Linked DNA regions of Homo sapiens: region 2 is reported to be linked to region 1. Evidence: microRNA targets listed by miRTarBase, many of them from high-throughput screens and not tested one by one. Region 1 holds a microRNA gene; the other region holds the end of a gene's coding sequence.
Evidence for each region. Region 1 holds the annotated microRNA hsa-miR-3973 (ACAAAGUACAGCAUUAGCCUUAG, at 2,438-2,460, opposite strand). A microRNA usually pairs through its seed, bases 2 to 8, with sites in the 3' UTR of a target mRNA and lowers its output. Matches are read on the target gene's strand: a 7mer-m8 pairs with bases 2 to 8, a 7mer-A1 pairs with bases 2 to 7 and ends in A, and an 8mer does both.

Region 1 (7,267 bases):
CCTTTGTCCAGCATACACACACTGTCTACACTATCTGCCTATTAGTCACTTAAGAACGGTCTCAGTTATCAGATCAACTGCCTCTGTCTTGCAATGTTTGTGTTTCAGTAACCAATTTTATTTAATAATGGCCCCAAAGCACAAGAAGAGTGATGCTGGTAATTCAGGTATGCCAAAGAGAAGCTGTAAAGTGCTTCCTTTAAGTGAAAAGGTGAAAGTTCTCGACTTAGTAAGGAAAGGAAAAAAAACTTATGCTGAGGTTGCTAAGATGTACAGTGAGAAAAAATTTTCTATCTGTGAAATTGTGAAGAAGGAAAAAGAATTTGTGCTAGTTTTGCTGTCACACCTCAAACTGCAAAAGTTATAGCCAGAGTGTGTGATAAGTGCTTAGTTAGGATGGAAAGGCATTAAATTTGTAGGTGGAACACATGGACAGAAATAGGTTTCAGTTGACAGCAATTTGGTACTATATTCGGTTTCAGGCATCCACTGGGGGTCTTGAAATGTACCCCCCGAAGATAAGGGGAGACTACTATAGAATATATTAATCAGAATTCCTAACCCCTAGAGACTTTAGAATATAGAAGAACAACAATCTAAACTGATTAAAATCAATAGTAAGAAATCACTTTCGAAGAAAATAGCAAACTTCTATGACCGTACCTGCCTTCTTCCCCACAGTCATGCAGTTAGACTATGAAGTCAAACAGTCATGATGCTGGTGACAGGCCGCCACTCAGACTTCCCTTAGACGTGATGCCTGCATTCGTGGAGCACCCACTATGTGTTAGAGCCTGCACTGGTGCTTTCTGTTTGTCATTTAATCCACACTGCATCGGGTAGCTACTTATACCCATTTTCCAGATGAGGAAATTGAGGTTCAAGATGACAAGCCAGGTAATGAGAACTAGCATGCAAATCAGGCTCTAACTGGCTCGCTAAATCTCTTTCCAACTGACCTCTGCTATGTCCCCAAAATAGCAGAATAGACCTGTTGATGAAGAATACATAAGTTACAATTGCTTATGGTTCTCTCTCCACCCTTTCAAAGGTTATAATATCAGTATTATTGAGGTAGCAGAACTTTTGATACACAAATCCCAAATTAATTATACATCTGAAGTGTTGAAGGACCACCCAAATCTAGACTACAGCAATGACCACTGTGTTCTCACTTCTAAAATTCCTAGCCAGTGACCTCCTCAACAATGACATTTTTCACTGATTGGGGCCATGGAACAAGATATTTATATTTAATAGATACCCGCTGCCTATCGCATGCTCTGTTTTGTAGTAAGCACTCATTCAACTAACTGATTCATTCATTTACCCAAAAAGAAAGCATTAGACACCTACTATACTCAAGGTTGCAGGGAATACAAGACTTGAGCACATCAAAAACCTACTATTGAGCAGGAGAGAAGAAGTGTGCACCTAAAGAGCTATAAAATTAAAATTATTTTATAATTATAAAAGTTGGAAGTCATAAATGCCACAGAAGAAAGTAAGAAATGGAATGTAAGAATTACTAAGAGGGGCTGGGTGCGGTGGCTCACGCCTGTAATTGCAGCACTTTGGGAGGCCAAGGCAGGCAGATCACCTGAGGTTAGGAGTTCGAGACCAGCCTGACCAACATGGAGAAACCCCACCTCTACTAAAAATACAAAATCAGCCAGGCTTGGTGGTGCATGCCTGCAATCCCAGCTACTCAGGAGGCTGAGGCAGGAGAATTGCTTGAATCTCGGAAGCAGAGGTTGCAGTGAGCCAAGATCGCACCATCACACTCCAGCCTAGGCAACAAGAGCGAAACTCCATTTCAAAAAAAAAAGAATTTCTAAGGAGGGGGAAATTTATTCCAGGGGAAGCATCATGGAATGCTGCATGGAATAATTTCCACCCAGGCTGCTTTGCAGGTTGGGTATGATGCAGACCTCTATTCCAAATGAAACGCTGAGCTAAATGGAGGCATGAAAGCAAATGGTCATGGAGAGGAGGATATAAGGGTGGGAAAAGCTTTAAGTGCCAGACTATAGAACTTGGACTTAACTTTATACACAAGGAGAAGCCAACATCATCCGTTTTTGAGCAAGGGAGTGACATGAGATGAGTAATGCTTCAGGTAGGTTAACCTGGCAGCCCTATGTAGAAAGAGATGGGAAAGAAAAGTAATAAGAAAATCCAATTTGGAAGCTATTGGAAATTTTTAGGCATCCATTTGGGAATCAAAGAGTTGGGTCTATCTTCACTAATTCCAAAATATATTCTTCTTCTAATAAGAAATATTATGAAGGGCTGGGCAAACTTAAAGTAAATAAATCTATTTAGTCTCTTGACTATTTGCTGAAGGCAGAGACAACTCAAGTCATCCATCTCTGGCTTTGGAAAACAGCAGATGGTATTTTTGGCAGCAGATCCACTGTCCTAGTTATATGTTTTGCTAAGGCTAATGCTGTACTTTGTTTGCATTTCTTCTGCCTGCACCATTGGAGCAAGGGGCAAGCAATCCTAAAATGTAACAAGCAATACAGAGAGCTACCCTGGGCTTCAAATTTTAACACTCAGATACTCCAGACACAAACACAATAAAGTAGGTTATACTCTTCAGTCCCTTATTCTGATAGTATTTTTTGAGGCCTGAGCACTTTGTCAATAATTCTGACCAGTTTCCTTCAAATCTTCAAAACCCCAAAGACAACAAGCAAGATAAAAGCAAGGAGTAGAATCCGATCATGAGTGGCTATGTATACAAAGCTGGAGAATTCCTGATACTGGTTACAGATTTCTGGAAAACTTCTTCGTAAGAAAAATAAAACAATCTTTTTGAAAACTGTGTTATTTGCAGACCTGCCTTTTTGATGTGCTCTTTTCCATAATATGAATAATGGAAAAAAAATGTTGCAGGAAATGAAGTGACTCATAGAATTTTCTGCATGGATTGAATTTCTGCAACTTTCGGTAAGCAAATCAGCAACAGAACGAATGGCATTTGCATTTCAGCAACACCCAATCCACTTATAAGGGTGCATGACAGTGATTATAGTGGAGGTGGGAAACCCATTCTTTCCTAAAGAGTCTAATTTTATCTTCCCAATTCCACTTTACATCTTTCAGCATAAACCTCTGGCTGGGTGGAAATCCATTTCTATTCGGATAGAAACTAATTTTTCAGGTATGTAAGTGAAAAATAATACAGGACTGTCTTCTCCAATGCTATTCTTAGCCTTTTGTAAATCCAGGTGACCAGGATAGACAACCAGATCCTGCAAAGGGAGTTCGTCAAAGCCCTGCCTATGATGACTGCTCCCAGAGCAGGGGGTCTAAACTATGGTTTGGAAGCATTTGATTTAATACTATTAAAAGGTCTGTCTCAGAGCAAAAAAGGGAGTTTCCTGGGAAGCACTGCCAAGATAAGGAAATTAACTCTTCAGGAAAGTTCCAGGAAGAGAAAGGTAGAAGTAGCCACAGATATGAGTTGGGGAAAGGATGGACATTTCAGCAGTATGAAATCCATTTCACTGGATACCAGGAAACCAGGATAAAAGTGAAGGTGTGTACTTACTTGGGCCTTGATCTCAGAGTGTTGGAGAAGAGAGAAAAAAATACAAAGGAGGGAGATATCTAGCCGTGTCTCCATGTGGAGACAAAGGAAGGTAAGAGAATGGTCAATTAAAGGGAATAAAAAGACGATATATATTATTTTCATAACCAAAGCTGTAGGAGACTGCTATAATCTCCACAGTTGTAATGCTGCTGTAAAAACATGTTTTTAAAAATAAGGCCTCAGTGGAAATCGAAATCCAAGCTGGAAAGCCTACAAGGAAAACAAGGCAGTACTTCTTCCCTGAACAGCACAGTTTCCTGTGAATACACAGTGAATAAGAGCGGATTCATTTCTTAAGAAGACAAAACAAAGACCTCAGTTCTCTTGAATATGCTTATTAATATTTAGCCAGTTAAACATGGGCCTTTCCCAGTTGCAACTTGCCAGCCCATAAATATTTACTAGGAATTGACACAGGCACATACAGAGACAGATAAAAAATATATATATTCATTCTTTCTCACCCCATAGGACTGGAACACCCAAAGAATTGCCTGTGTATCGACAAACCCAATCTTGCAATAGGAGCATTTAAAGTTACATTTCTTGACCCCAACAAACTCCTGGGAGAAAGGATCCCTCTCCCCAGATTCTAAATTCCTCCTTATATTTTCTCAAGCCTTGAAGAGGTCCCAACACCAAATAGGAATGCTACCGTCTTCCATGAACCCTGGAGTTGGGATGGAGGAGGCTTTCCTTGAGGTACAACTGCACTCTCATCAAAGCACAATCTGTATCTAATCCACATTTTCAGGCCTCAGGTGCACATTCAAATGGCTTTTTGAAAAAATATAGGATTTTACCCAATTTGTTTACCCATTCTGCCTGGTTTGCGTCCCCAAGTGTTCTTTACAAATGACAAATAATATGCCCTCCTCACATAAAAATGGCCCTAATGATAACTACCATTTATTGGGTATTCTCCATGTGCCGGAGCCTTTACAAGCATCTAATATTTATAACAACTTTAATCAAAAGACTCATTTGCTCCCTTCCACAAAGGAGAAGAGGCCACTCAGGTAGGCTGAACAGTCCACCAGAGGTCACGTGGAGTAAACTGAGTGTCTGGGATTTCTACAAGGGTTGGGTCTGCCTAAACTTTATTTCATCTTCACTCAATTCTTTTATCTGGCCACAAAAACATAGCCATGGAAAAATCCAACCATCTCACACCCGCTTCCCAGCACCTGAACTACAAGCTTACATTGCAGCCTGTCGGATTCTCCTGCCAGTTTCCCCTCAGAAAGAAAATTTACGAGGACTGTACTAAAATCACTGGTCTGCAGAGGCTGCAAAGTGACTTCTAGTTTTAAAAACTAACACGAGTCTCCCCCAGAGCTGATTATTAGGGCTGATGCAGCTCATAAAATGGACCATAAGACCATTTCTGTTCTAACAGTTTTGTGTTTTCCTTTTCCAGAGTGCTGGCTGAGGAGGACTGCTGAAGAAATGCCTTCCCAAGCCGCCGGTCCTTCCACACTCAGGCAAGCCTCAGGACTGCCTTCGCCTCTTCCCTCCCTCACCTTTATCAGATTCTCTCCAGTATGCACAAAGGAAACATGATTAACCAGCCTCCCTACCAGAGGGTGATCTCAGATGGGTCCCAGAAGCAGGTTCTAATTTACTTAAGTGATGAGTCTCTCCAGTTACTCAATCCTACAATACCGGCCAGTAGATATAATTGCAAAGCAGGTAGGCTAGACTCACCAACCTGCCAATTCAGTGCCAACAAACATTGCAAATTACAGGGTATAAATTTAGCAGGGTGGGTCTTGACACACATTCCTGCGAATTACACCTTCTCTCACTAGTAGAAAGTGCATTAATTACTTCGGGTGCATGTACGACTTCCACTTACTCGGAGCTTTCTGGAAAGCTATGAGCAACTCAGAGTAATCCATGAAGATTAAAGTATAAATAAATAATGACTGCTGGAGGAGGTGGGATTTTTCCAAAGCTCTTGGAATCAGAATTGTTAACTTTCTCCCCCACAGACTGAGAGAGTCACTGAGGCCCACTGTGTGGGGCTGGGGACAGAGTAACCCAGGTCAAGGCACAAATATGGGACCAGTAGGGCTGAACCTTGAGCAGGATGGTGGCAATGGAGCAGCCATTTCCTCCCTCTTGGGCTAAAAGTGCGACTTCCCCTGCAGGAAGGGGAATAGTCGACATCTGGAGCAAGGCAGATGCAGCCAGAAGTAAGGTCTGAATCCACGGGCTTGAGCCCATAAGGCAATTTCACCCTGTGTGATAACAGTGGAGCACTATTTATGCACCAGGCACTGAGCTAAATATCTACATCCTGCATTGTCATGGGATTGTTCACCACCACCATGTGATGGAGGAAGGAACCAGTGCTAAGTTTACAGAGGAGAAAACTAAGGCTCAGAGAGTTCAAAAACTTGCCCAAGGAAACATAATCAGACAGTCATGGAACCCAGGTCTGTATGACTCTAAAACCCACACTCTTAAACACTAGGAACTGCAGCAGCTATGGAGAGGCAGCGAGCCCAAGGTGCCCAGTCTGGGATTCGGGGAGGGTGAACCACCATCACACATCCATTCAGTAACTCCTACTTCGTATATGCCTGGCACACAGCTCAGCGCTTTCACTAAACCTGTTCCATTTAATTCTCAGAACAACTCTGGGAGGCATCTCATCCCCTTGACTGCACCCTTAAGGAAACCAAGGCTGGGAAAAGTCAAGAGCATCCAGCTAATGAGTAGAAAAGCCAACATTTTAATTCATCCATATGCTTCCTAAAGTCATGGCTTTTCCCCTAATCTGTGAATTAATTGTAACTCTGGTAACTATGGCGCCCACATAATTTAGGGAGAAAAGAAGGATTAAACAGAATCAAACTGCTGGGGCTAGAGGAAAACACTCAATGATGCTACCCACCATTGAGGTCTCTGAGCCCATATTTCCTGTGGGATGAGGAACGACTGGGCATCTATAGTGGGCAAGGGCGCAGTTTTTGTTTAAGTTGCTCAACATCTTAGATATGGTTTGGATTTGTGTCTCTGTCCAAATCTCATGTCGAATTGGAGGAGGGGCCTAGTAGGAGGTGACTGAATCATGGGGATGGATTTCCCCCTTGCTGCTCTCGTGATAGCAAGTTCTCATGAGATCTGATGCTTTAAACATGTGTGGCACTTCCCCCTTCGCGCTCTCTCTCTCCTGCCACCATGTGAAGAAGGTCCTTGCTTTCCCTTCACCTTCTGCCATGATTTTAAGTTGCCTGAGGCCTCCTAGTCATGCTTCTTGTTAAGCTTGCAGAATTGAGAGTAAATTAGCCCTTTTTTCTTCAGAAATTACCCAGTCTAAGGCAGTTCTTTATAGGAGTGTGAAAATGAACTAATACAGAAAATGGGTACCAGGAGTGGGGCACTGCTGTAAAGATACCAGAACATGTGAAAGTGACTTTCGAACTGGGTAATGGGCAGAGGTTGGAATAGTTTGGAGAGCTCAGAAGAAGGCAGGAAGATGTGGGAAAGTTTGGAACTTCCTAGAGACTTGTTGAATGTTCTTGACCAAAATGCTGATCGTGACATGGACAATGAAGTCCGGGCTGAGGTGGTCTCAGATGGAGATGAGGAACTTATCGGGAACGGGAGTAAAGGTCACTCTTGCTATGCTTTAGCAAAGAGACTGGTGGCATTCTG
Region 2 (7,000 bases), not on the chromosome of region 1:
GGATTATTATTGTTTTGTTTTTACATCAGGGCTCACTCAGCTTGGGTTATTTGTAGTATTCTACATGGCCTCAGTCTTAGAAGTGCTGTGAAGCAGAATCATTTAATTCACGGGCCAGTCTTCTACGGAGGTACCTAAAAGAAGCCTTTTGTTTCCTTGACTTCTTTATTCCTACAGCCTCAGTGGTAGGGAGGATCCACCTCACCTGTCCAGCTACTTCTGGCCTTTTTGGGGTCAAACACTACGGGTAAACTCACATGTCATCCTCACTCCTATGGATACACAGAGCTCTTGGAACCAAGCTCTTCTTAAAGTTCTTTACTTTCCTGTCCTTAGTTCAGAGCTTCGTGAAGCTGATCTCCAAGTGAGAAAATCAAGTTCTACTTCCTTTCTCTTCCTTCCTTTTGGCAAGGCCAAAGACTTCACTTATATCCAGCCAGCTACCTTATAACCCAGAAGCCTTTTGGTTTAGGAATGACAGCTAGATTGAAGTGGGGGCTATAGAGGAAGAAAACTGTGTTCACGTCACCACCTTCCCAGATTTCACCCCATCCTCCGTTCTGTTATGCATTTTTATTATTTTTATAAATCAAAAACCAATAATACTTTTGCCATCTATCAAGTGGTCTAATTGTATTTATGCTGAACTTCCTTATACTTGGTTTATATTATTGCAAGTAAGATAGACTTGGAAAAAATATTGACAACTTACGAAATCATCAATTCCTGGGAGACTGGATAGGGAGAGGATTCCTGATTAAGGAAATCTAGACTTAGAAGTCCTAATTTTACACTAGAATAACGCCTTTGTTTTCACTATTAATTTAGAAGAAAGGCTTAGCCTTGGAGGCCAACTTTAATTTTATTTCAAAAGTTTATGATTTTGTTAATTTCCTGTCTTGTTTCTTTTGCCAGGTGGTGTGGGGATGATGTGCTCATTGAGTGAACAAGGGAAGCAGCTAGCTATCCAGGTGTCTAATATCCTGGGGATGGATGTGTGTGGCATTGATCTGCTGATGAAAGATGACGGCTCCTTCTGCGTCTGTGAGGCCAATGCAAATGTAGGTTTCATCGCCTTTGATAAGGCTTGTAATCTAGATGTAGCTGGTATCATAGCAGACTATGCCGCCTCCCTTCTACCCTCTGGCCGGCTCACCCGGCGTATGTCCCTGCTCTCCGTGGTGTCCACTGCCAGTGAGACTAGTGAGCCGGAGCTGGGTCCCCCAGCCAGCACTGCTGTTGACAACATGAGTGCAAGTTCCAGCTCTGTTGACAGCGACCCTGAAAGCACGGAGCGAGAGCTGCTCACCAAGCTCCCAGGGGGCCTGTTCAACATGAACCAGCTGCTAGCCAATGAAATCAAACTACTGGTGGACTGACTCCACTGGTAATTAACCAACAAAACCCTTGTAAAACTTTCTTTCTTCTTTTCTATTTTTAAAACCAACTTGCAATGCTGTTCATGGAGGATGCTCAGGAAGATGAGAGAAAATTAGTAGGATTAGTTGGAGAGAGTGGGAGATAGATGAGACCTCTGCTAGTAAGATGTTACTTTCATTTACAAATCCTACAAATAGAGAGGCAGAATAGGTGGGGTATAGAAAAATGTCAGGCTCTCATAGTTACCCTTTTAAATTGCTAAAAAATGTGTATGCTCATAGGCCATGAGGAACAAATACTTTTTTTTTTTCATGGTCCCTTGCTTTTGTTTTTGTACAAAAAAAAATGGTTTTGCTACAAATATCCAAGTAGCATAACTTCACATTGTGTTGGAAGATTTGTCATCAGTGAGGAAAACATCTGCATAAATTACAGGAATTTTTGTATTATACAGCTCTGAAAATTCTGCCATTTCCTTATTAACTAGCAGCTTTAGTTTGTAGTTTATGAAATCTTGAGGGGCTCTTTTACTGGGATTTCTTATTTTTTTGTTTTTTCCCGCTTAATTTGGTGGGAGGTCAAATTGAATATAACCCAATAAAGGCTTCTTAATGACAAAATTGGCATGTTTGCATGATGAAATGGAAATGAACAGTATTGCAATGTCCGGTATACAAAATAACATTAATTCAATGTAGATAAAATTACACTAGTTTAAAATATGTGCATTCACTTGTATTTGTTAGTGTTTTAGTCTTTTTTGAAAGATGTGCTCTGTTAATGTTGCTTTTTTTTTTTTTTTTAATACATGCTAGTCTAACATTTCCTGCTCTATGCCTGCATCTTTAACAATGGCCAAAGTGAAGAAAATGCTACCTTTTTTGTTAACAAGACACTGACTTGAAACATGTACATTTAAAGCCTTTTATTTTTTCCCTTTTTGTTTTGGTAGTTGGGCATTTAAATAAGGACAAGGAAAAATATTTTTGGGGGCAAATCAAGAGCCTATGAGTTCTAAGTATAAAGCTGAAGTGATTTCGAATGCCAGCGTTATATATTTGCATTTTTCACATTTTACGAGGGAGTATATGTGTATGTGTGTGCACGCATGCATGTGTATGTGTTTTGCTTTTTGTTTCCATCAACTAATCAAAAAGGATAATTTAGAAAATGGAGCATGATGGGAAACAGAGTTTTTGACTTTAAAAAACAGATGAGTTGTTTTCATAAGTAGACTCCACTGGGGTAGAGGTATTCACCTTAAAACATAGGGTGAGTAGATGCTTTTTTAGGCCTTTTTGTGTATATGTACGTTGTTTGTTTTTTTCCTTTTGTTTCTAGCCTGTTCAGTGTACAGTTTATTCAAGGCTACATGCTTTTCTTTAATGCTTCTGGCTATGCATTTTCTCTTTTTACATATAGGATTTGGGATTGGGGGTGGGTTGGATGTTTTTGTTTGGGGACTTATTTAGTAGTATTGAGTCTCTTATAGCCCTACTCTTAAGCCTTCAATACTGTCCACTCTTTATATTCCTTTACTTGCAGAATTTATAAAAGCCCCCAAACTGCATATAATATGAGCCTTTAAAACATGGGTAAAACTAATCCCATTGATGGGTTTGGATGGTATGTTAAGAAATGGAGATGCTGCAGAGCCCAACGTAATTTTTTAAACAGCAAGTTTTCCATCTCCCTACGAATCCTCTGAAGCTTTTACCCAAGCCCTTTCTTGCCTCTCCAGTGCTATTTTCCTTCAGATGGACCTTAAACATAATTTCTTGGACACTACTAGAGAGACTTCGAGGCAATAATAAAAGATCAGTATTAACCAGCTATAACAGAGGTTTGATCATGCTTACTTGTACAGTTTTTCCCCCGTTTTAAAAAGGAATGTAATAAAATTTGTTTTTTCCATAGAATTAAATAATATTAAAATTGAGTGAAAGGTTGATTGTTGATGAATAGAATAGTACCTCTCATCTGTGCAGTGTCTCATTTCACCTCAGAGAAAAGGATACATAAGAGGAGTTTGTAATTTATCTTAGGATATTCTAATTGCATTTAAAAGAACTTATCTTGCGCAGGGTAAATGGGGGACTCACATACATATATTAATACCTCTGACTCATTAACAGAAAGAAATACTTGGTACTTCTTTCGCTGAATGACCATACTGTGGAGGATGCATACTATTTGGTATAGAGAAATAAATGAGGAAGAAAGAACTGCTTAATTAAATTATCATTCATATGTTCATATAGAGACCATCTGGTTGCCATGTGTATTATGACACATACACTTTGAATAGTTACATATCACAAGTATGTAGTTCATGTTTGTGTTGGTGGGGTAAGGCATCAGGAAAAATGTAGTTAGTCTTTTCTTAACTTATACCAAATTAACCAACTATATTATAGGAAATATGTGAAATTAGTTCATTAGCTTTATTCACTATTATGCATTCACATGATATTAAAACGTACACTCACATGTTAGAATGAAAAGAGCAGTAGTTATCTTAGATTTTAAAAACATGGATATCTTCTTGAATTCCTTCAAGATTGAGGTAGAGAATAAGAGCAAATCATTCTGGAAGTACCTTAAGGAAACAAACAGCAGCAGATATTTAGGTTAAACTTATTTTCATAATTGTTTAATAACTTTTGTATAATCTTCATTGCTATTATGAGAGAGAATGTATATATCAAATATGTGTAATGATAAAATCTGAATTGTAAAATTTTTGTATATTGTTAAAATTGTAATTCTAAATTGTATTTCAAAAATGATTATTTCTGATATTGTTTTTATGTCACCCATGATGAAAACTGGACTTTATATATCTAAACATACAAGTATGAACTATTCTATTTAAAATTTTTAATAGTTTTTTTCTTTTTTGGTGCCTATAATTGATTGGTCATTTCTGCTGGCTTTTCTCCAATGAACATTGAAATCTTCCTGTATATGTTACCAATAAGAAAACTACCCTGGAACAGTAGAAAAACCCAACAAGAGACTTGGCATTCATCAAGCACATTATCAGACTTTGAGAACATATTGAAGGCATTGACTTTGAAAATCATCTCTTTTTCTCAAGAAGAAAGCAATGGAGAAGCAAATTTGTTTCATTCAGTGAATCCCCAGTTTGGGGCTTGTGGGGCTTAGAGACATTGTGAAATCAAATCTTGTGTTATACTTTTCTCCTGGCTCACTTTTTTTGAGAAGGTTTATGGGCTATTTGGCTGGTGAGACACGATCCCCTCCTAAGAAAATGTAGGTGCTCAGACAGGTAACCACTGCTGCTACTGTTTTTATTTGTTTGTTTGTTCAATTTTATTTAAGATTTGTTTTTGTTGTACTAGGATTTTAAAAAATGTAATATATTGCAGGATTTATAACCAGGTTCACTGACTGCTTGCTTGCTTTCTTTTTTTTTTTTTTTTTTTTTTTTTCTTCTTAAAAAAACAAAACAAAGTTTCATTTAAAATACATTTAGGCACCTTTGGAGCTTGGATTTTGGAATGTTTCAGTAGTGGACAGAAATCTGCTGTTGGAATCTTCTAGTCTTCCAGGTTTAATTTGAAATGTTTTTAGTTTTGTTTTGGATTTTTGTGTGGTATTTTATTTCCTTTATACCAATGCCATTTTGCCATGCTGTTTTGGGGTGGCTGCCTAACTCTAGTGAAAATTCTTTCTATATTAATGAAAGTTTGGCCTTTGAAGATCCTTAATGTTTTGCATTTTTTACATTGTTTTTAAAGAAATATTCTAACTGCTTGCACTGTTACTGTTCTTTACCAGCCTTTTCAGGAGCCAAAAAAACAAATACAAACAAACAAAAAAATACCCAGAGAAAAAACTTTCCTTCTTCCCCCTTCCTGATGATGAGTGAGAAGTATTGAGAACTTTCGGGGTCAGTGCCCTTCTAAACTCCCCTTCCCCCAATAATGCAGCTGTATAATGAATGGTAAATGCACCGGTTTGGATTCAGGCACAGCCCCAGTCTGCCTACAGGTAATTTAACTCTTTCTCCTTTCTTTCCATCACTAGGCTAACTTTCTTTTTTTAAAACTTCCTTTCTTTACGTACTTTAAAAAGTAACCATGGGTTTGTCATAATTCTCACTTAAAAATAATGCATAAATGTATCTAGCAAATAATATGATTAAAGAAGAGCTTTTGGGGGTAAAGTTTGACTTGGTTATGATATACTCAAGACTTGGGAATTTTGTTTAGCCATTTAGATGACTCCATTTCTTGCATATATGTCTATAATTAAGTATTTCAGAGTGTGAATTTTTTGGCTTTGTTTTTGTTTTGGGTTTGTTTGTTTCTTCCATTGTGCTACTCTGGCTTAAGCTTTTTCAGGGGTTGGTGTTCCGAATACACAGTGAGCTCACAGTATAAAGACATCAATTAGGAGTTGACAGGTATGGAAAACTAGAGTTTTGAAAGGTAAAATTAGGCTCTAGGTTATATATATGGTAAAAACTCAACATAGCATTCATTTTACCTTAGTGCTTCTCTCTGTGACTTTATAAAAGTGAAAGGGAATAGTAAGACGAAGATAATACAAAAAAATTTAGTTCTTTTAGGAGCAATGTGATTTCAGAACTAATCGTTTTAGCATTTCTAAGATACTAGTTCTAACAAGGAGATGTGAGCAGTTTGAGATTATCAGAAAATCATGGTTTAAACCTTCAAAAATTACAGGTTTGAACAGATAGGAGGACATTTCTGAAGCACAAGATGGCTAAGCACATTAACCAAGGACATAAAATGTCAGGGATAGGACTACAACTCGTCCATTTTAATAGCCTTTCTGTTAGGTAATAAACTAAACTATCCTCTCCTCCGTCTTTACCCCAGTCTACCTACCCATTCTTCCTTTCTCCTATACTTCCTAAAGTTTTAGTTCTGAGCTTTTATTATTTTGGGATATTGTCATCTTTCTAATAGGTAGAATTTTAGTGAAAGTAATCAGGACCTTTTCAAGATAGACTTCTGCATAATTTCATCCTGTGGCTTTGGACGTACTATCCAAAGAGGCTGTACATCCAGCAAGTCACTAGTTAGTGAATAGGAATTCTTGGCGTGTAATGCCATTTCTTGTAGCTGAAGGAAGACATGTGATAAGTGATTAACCTGTTCTGTGCTTCAGTTGACTCTTATAAGGACAGTCATTCCCTTTAAGCATCTTAAGACAAAAATATTTATCTGTTGAATTGGAATTTACTAACAGAGGGAATTTGAATTGGAATTTACTTCCAGCTGCACTCATGCAAGAATTTGTGATGTATACTAAAAAATAAAAAAAGGCTCATTCAGGAGAGCCTTGTACTCAGCAAGAGTGGCTAACATTAGAGCATACAGACTATGTGATTGTATAAGGCATGGAGAGTTAAACAACCTCCAGTCAGCTGCCTGTTTGAATACCACTGACTTGTTAAGAATGATCTTGCTTTTAGATTTTACCATATTCAAACTTATTAGGTGAGCCTTATATAGCATATATACCTGGCTGCTATTGTGGGGTTTGGGAACATGAGGGGTGGGGTGAACTGTTGTTGTTTTAGGTTTCAGTCAGACAGACATCCCTGTGCCTCAGTTCCCAGAAG

Region 2: the mRNA of RIMKLB is a reported target of hsa-miR-3973. Seed matches in the 3' UTR shown: 7mer-A1 at 3,678-3,684, 7mer-A1 at 4,427-4,433 and 7mer-A1 at 4,453-4,459.

The regions. Positions count from the first base shown.
Region 1 is chr11:36,005,374-36,012,640 of GRCh38, reverse strand. MIR3973 (microRNA 3973) reads right to left here and starts at 2,543; the gene lies at 2,437-2,543. The region is part of intron 1 of LDLRAD3 (low density lipoprotein receptor class A domain containing 3); the gene reads right to left.
Region 2 is chr12:8,772,406-8,779,405 of GRCh38, forward strand. It overlaps RIMKLB (ribosomal modification protein rimK like family member B), which reads left to right. Exons shown (of 6, transcript NM_001297776.2): 6 at 916-4,786. The coding sequence ends at 1,379. A2ML1-AS1 (A2ML1 antisense RNA 1) reads right to left here. Exons shown (of 2, transcript NR_046715.1): 2 at 3,806-3,979. Among named protein-coding and RNA genes, the nearest start is that of LINC02972, 12 kb to the right of the region's middle. RefSeq lists enhancers at 1-203, 204-703.